2 separate regions of the Homo sapiens genome follow, and region 1 is linked to region 2. The links come from fine-mapping of genetic effects on gene expression. A gene starts in region 2. The other region holds a variant in brackets. All regions are shown on one strand. Distances are from middle to middle.

Region 1 (2,902 bases), 210 kb before region 2:
TCCACCCTGGGGACATGAACACAGTGAGGACCAGCAAGGGGAGTTCTGAGCTTCTCATCTGCAACTTGTCACCTTGACTGACAGCCAAGGAAACCCCACACACCAGGACCCCAACCAAGGCCGCGGGAGACTTCGACTGCAGGAAGGCGGCAACGTCAGTGGCCCAGCCAGCAGCTCTTCCTGCTCGCGGTTTTAATGGCCTTCCCTGCTGACCATCCTCATCCTGATTTTGTTCCTTCTTTGAGGCTGTCCCAGTCACCCTGAAAAGGCCAAGACACACTGTGAGGCCCCCTCAGTCCGAGACATCAAGGTCAAATGAACCCCGGGAACATCACAGGGATTGGGAAGAAGACTGTTTCTGAAACTGACAGCCCCCACCCCTACAGGAAGCCCCTTACCCTACTGGAAGCTGCTAGTGGCTTATTCCATACCCGCCCCACGATACACTTCGGGGCCTGGCCACAGGACTGGCCATGTGTGATGGGTGATTGGTACGGAGACAGGACTTCAGCCTCTCAGGCAGAAGGCCTCGGGCACTGGGACTGCCCCCTGATCCAGCCTGTTTCGAGGGGGGATGTTAGGATTCCTCAGGCACCCAGAGAGGACAGAGACCCTCCCCACGCCAGCAGATCTGTGACCTGGGCCCCAAAAGAGAGATGAGGTCCCCCTGGGGGTGTGTCTTGGATGAAGGGTAGGAGTGGTATCTGATCCCTCTGGGTCCCTCACACCAACCACGACCTAAGTCACAGTTTTGGCTGAGTGAACAAAACACACCACTGAGAGACAGCCTGCTGTGCTTTTGACACTTTATCCGTTTTTATTTAAAAACATGCTAAAAACATGGTGTTCCATAAAGCCAGGACCAGGATGAAGGAACGCACAGATACGGCAATGCAAGCAGAAAGTGCATCTGAAACCAACAAGCGTGCTCACCCTGCTCTCCCTCCCGTGCTGCCCGGGGGCAGGCAGGTGGGCAAGGAGGGGGCAGGAAGCCCCCCAGGCCTCACCTCCTGAGTCCCCAATCAGGGCAGGGAGGCCAGGCCCCACCCTGGACTATTGACTCACTGCAGTGGGGAGGAGGAAAGTGTGGGGCACGGGAACACAAGGGCTGGCCGGACTCTGAGAAGCTGAGGGACAAAGAATGGACCCCAAGCACCTCACGCCCAGCTCCCAT[C/T]CTATGCCACGTCCCTGCTAGTTAGCACCTCCACCAGTGGGTGGGCAGGGGCTGGAGAGGAGGGGACAGCCACTTCCATCCACCCAGACTGCTCTTGGGCCACCAAAGCCTGGAAAGATGGCCATCTAGTTCCAAGTCAAACCAGGACACCTGCAAGAGGGTCCGGGGCAGGGCCACCTTCCAGAGAGCCTGAGACACAGGCCCATGCTGGAGGGAGAGGGGGGTGACACGGCTCAAGCTGGGGGAGGGGTGCAGGGGGAGACTTGCACCGTGACACCTGCTTCCACCACCCAAGAGCAGTTCTCAGCCTGTGCCCGCTCACCCCCACTGCAGGATGGCTGCAGAGAAAGGCTGAGTCTGCAGCGGATGCCCCCCTGCAGTCCTCTACAAACCCTGAGGGACTTTCTGAGACAAGTGTGTAAATTGCTCACATCAGACCTGATTGAACTGACTCTGGCAAAGGGAGCCGTGAGTGAGGGAATTCTCTCAGGGGAATTCTACCCCAGTGAGATCACAGTCAGGAGAAACTGAAGAGAGGCTGTGCCACCTTCACTGGCATCGCTGGGTGTGGCCCTCTGAGTGGAAGGGGCTCGAAGGAACACCCACTCTGTGCACACAGACTTCCGCCCAATGTAGACTAAGCCAAATAACAAAACGGCCAAGCGCAGAGTGAGTAAAGAAGGCAGCGTGGGGACCTGTAGATGAGGCTCTGCAAACAGACGGATGAGGTGGGGGCTGGTGGGAGCACTGTGGCAAAGGCTCTGGGGCCAGAGGCCACCCCTGAAGTACTCCAGAAACAGAAAAGATTTTCAGGGAGGTTGCACATCTCCCAATGCACTAGGCTTTTGCTGTTGATATTAACAAAAATTAAAAATTGCATTGATAGGCATAAACCAACCCACCCACCCCACCCACAGCAAAAAACGCACGAGGCCCCGGGTCCCACCGTGCAACTGCAGCACTTGTCTGCTGAGTCTCTCCGCCCGGATGTGTCTGCTCCGGAATCTGCACTTTGGGGGTTCCTGCGGAGGCGGCTGAAACTCCTTACCAGGAAGCCAGGCCAGGGGACAAGGGCAGGGCAGCTTTGCTCAAATGTGGGCCTCCCCCACATTCCATCAGCACCACTGCCCCTGTCTCAGGGAAGCGGTCTTCACCCTGCACAACTCACAAGACCACCCTACTCTCCACTCCCACCCCCACAAAACACGAATCCTGATAATGCCAACGGTTCTGTCCTCCTGTTCCCGATTTGTGTGTTACTTAAGGTGAACAGAGGAGTGACTGGTGCTGGGTGGCCGTGTCTCAGCTCTTGGATCAGACAGGCAGGTGGAGGCTGGAGAAGAGACCTGGCCCCAGTGGGAAACCAGGGTGACAAGACAAACTGTATAGGAAAGGCAGCCGCCCACCAAGGCCCCACCTGATCAAGTGCAGCAGACGCTGGCTAGCGGGTGAGGTCCCCGTGCTCAGTCCCACGGATTCGCGACCTTTTTGAACGGCAAAACAGTAAGCCAGACCAGCTGCAGTTTGGAGGGGGCGCCCTGCTGCAGCTGAATCCCACTCCTGGCCTCACTCCCCAGCCCGTTTCTCTCCCATGCCCAGCTCTGCACGTGCGTGACTCCGGCTGCTTTCTTCCCGTGGCTCCGGTAACAAGAGCCAGTCTGACCTCTCTTGGGTTTTCTGTATTTCTTCTCCTTGGGATCACAGATGATATAATCGCCACCCAACCCA
Region 2 (2,902 bases):
AAAAAAAAAAAAAAGTAACAAATTTCACAAGATTACGTATGAATTAAATAAAATTATATACAGCTAATGTAACGTGCATAGAAAAAACTTGGCCAACTATAAATTACTTTATCAACACTAGTTATTGTTATTAATATTAAATATCTGTTCATAGGTTTAAAAAGCTCTGCCAGAATATTAAAATCTGATTAAACCAGACCAAAAAAAAAAAAATCCTACTCTCACCTGTTCAGGGACTTGCACACAGGGCGTCTTCAGTGAGTGAGAGTAGAACTGAATTACACTTCAAGTTTTATCTACCCCAATCCTCTCCCTCCAACCCACAGCCCAGCTGCATCAGCCATGCCAGGACCAAGCCGAGGGTAGGAAGCCGGTGTAATTGTCTGCCTCTCTGGCTGCATTCCTTAGCTAAATATAAATGATTTGTCCAGGCTATTGTTTGAAATTATCCATAATCCCTCTCCTCCCCTCCCCATTACTTATGATGGCAAGCTGGCTGCGTATCTCTATAGCAAAGCATATATTCAACATTCTCTGTGGCTATTTTCAGTAAAGAGAAGGGAGCTGGCAGGTATATATAGGGATCCTCGCATGAGTCTTCAGTTTTCTCCACTAGTCCAGGAAAGCTTCCTGGAGGAGGAAATACCTGAGTCACCCCAGGGAAAAGGACAGCTGCAGGTCAGAAGGGCACGCGCACATAATGAGAGACTGGGTCTCTGAACTAAGAGTTACCAGGTAAGGCAGGTAAGCCCCTGCCTTCTTACCCCCCGTTTTGGTGATGCGAGAAAAAGGTAGCTCAGGGGATCCCATACTAGCCCAAGCTTCCCCAGACAAAACAGGCATTTGGGGGAAGATGAAGCAGTGACTCGTATATTTTTCAAAGAGGGAGGAGATCCAAGACTCCAGTTCCAAGATGTACAAGTACAAATATTGCTCTTACAACAACAAGCCGGTTTCTTGTTTGGATCTTTTTTTAAAAACCACAAGAAAGTTTTTTGAAGTCCCAAACTTGAATGCACAGATGGGCTAGATCTCCAACTTCGGGATGTGCCAGAGTCCTGTCACTCGGAGTGCTGATCTTCCAGCAGTGGCCCAGGGAGCGGTCGCGGGTGCCGGGGGGCTGCAGGCCATATCCCAGCCCTGCCCGAAGGCCCCCTGGCCCTCTCTGGGGTCCTTGTATGGACTGTCCCAAGCGGTGCACGGGGTCACACAGTCGGAAACCCTTGCCGGCCCCGGGTTACTCCCTTTCTGAAACGGTCTTCCTCGGAGCCATCCCCTGGAGGACCCCACTTCGCTCGGTGCCCGGGCCCCGCACCCACCCTCCCCTTCCCGGCCCGCTTCCCGCACGGCGCCTACTCTGTTCCTCGTCCTCTCGTCCCACCGCCGCCCTGCCCACACTGCCTCCCGTGGGCGCCCCCGGCCGCTCCCCCTTCTCGGGTCTCGGCCTGGGGGTGCCCAGCCCGCCCGGCGCCGGCTCAAGGCCGCGCGACTCCGCACGCTCTCGAGACCCGCCTCGCCGCCCGCCGCCCGGGCCGCACTCACCGCGCCCGCAGGACCTGGGGGTCTCCGCTCTGCTCGCGCTCCGGCACCGCCGCCGCCGCCGCCGCCAGCGGAAACAGGGGGCGGGGCCTGCCCGGGAATGGCGAGCCTGCGGGGCGGGGCGGCCCGGGGGCGGAGCGGGGAGGGGCGGGGCGGAGCGGGGAGGGGCGGGGCGGAGAAGGATCGCAGGGCTGAGCGGGGCGCCAGCGCCAGTGCCCGGCACTGCCCCGGGCTGGGTCCCCTGCGTTAGAGGAAGGGGAGCCCGGGGACGGGGCACGGGGCCCGCGAGGCACGGGTGCTCTCTCGGGGTTCCGGAAGCCTCCCTCCCCGCCCCGCCGCCCGCATGCCCGGACCGGCCGCTCCTCCGAGGTGCTATGATCCCGCCTTCCCCCTGCGGCGAACGGGCCTCTTCCCGGGGTAGGGGCGGGGAGGTCCGGGCCTGGCAGTGCGCTCTCCTGGGCTCTGCGCCCACACGGCACCCAAGGGCCTTCCTGGCCCAGGCCTCGGCTCTCTCCCTCGCGCCAGGCTGCCTGGCCTCGCCACCCCACCCCCACACCTACGAACCCCTTCCCTGGTGTTTCGGGCGGACTGTGCGAGATGCTGACAGCGCGGGTGTGTGTTGGAGCCTGCCTGAGACACCTCCCGCAGAAAGGGCCATGCCTCCCCAGGAGCTGGCGGCCTCCAAGGGCGACTACAGGGCACCGTGTGCCTGAGGGGTGCGCTAAGGCAGGAGAAACTCCAGCTAGGCATGTCTGGCCCGGGCGCTTTTTCAGGCCTGGATTTTATGTGTTTTTTGCTTTTTGTTTTGTTTTGTTTTTTCTTGAGACAAGGACTCACTCTGTTGCCCAGGCAGGAGTGCAGTGGTGCGATCACGGCTCACTGCAGCCTCGACTTCCCGGGCTCAAGTGATCCCGCCTCAGCCTCCAGAGTAGTTGGGACTGTAGGCGCGCACCACCACGTCCGGCGAAGTTTTTGATTTTTTTTGTACAGACGGTGGTCTCCCTGGGCCCAAGCTGGTCTCAAACTCCCGGGCTCAAGCCATCCTCCTGCCTCTGCCTCCCAAAGTGCTGGGATTATAGGCCCGGATTCTTAAAGCTAGAAGGCCTAAACTTGTTTCCAAAGAGCACTAAAACGCCATCTCTTCTCATCATTACTGTCATCAAAAATGTCTTCTAGGCCAGGTGTGGTGGCTCACGCGTGTAATCCCAGGACTTTGGGGGGCCCAGGTGGAAGGATTGCTTGAGCTCAGGAACTCAGGAATTCAAGAACAGCCTGGGCAACATAGGGAAACCCCATCTCAAAAAAAAAATGTTTTAATTAACCGGGTGTGGTGGCACACCCCTGTAGTCCCAGCTGCTCCGGA

What was found.
Region 1: its variant is fine-mapped to the expression of TSPAN9 in lung (TOPMed, PIP 0.92).

Annotation. Positions count from the first base shown.
Region 1 is chr12:3,284,452-3,287,353 of GRCh38, reverse strand. TSPAN9 (tetraspanin 9) reads right to left here. Exons shown (of 9, transcript NM_006675.5): 9 at 795-2,902. Among named protein-coding and RNA genes, the nearest start is that of LINC02827, 14 kb to the left of the region's middle. RefSeq lists enhancers at 2,127-2,627, 2,628-2,902. The variant C/T (reference allele first, on the strand shown) is at 1,175.
Region 2 is chr12:3,076,094-3,078,995 of GRCh38, reverse strand. It overlaps TSPAN9 (tetraspanin 9), which reads right to left and starts at 1,617. Exons shown (of 9, transcript NM_006675.5): 1 at 1,543-1,617. RefSeq lists silencers at 1,512-2,011, 2,062-2,111.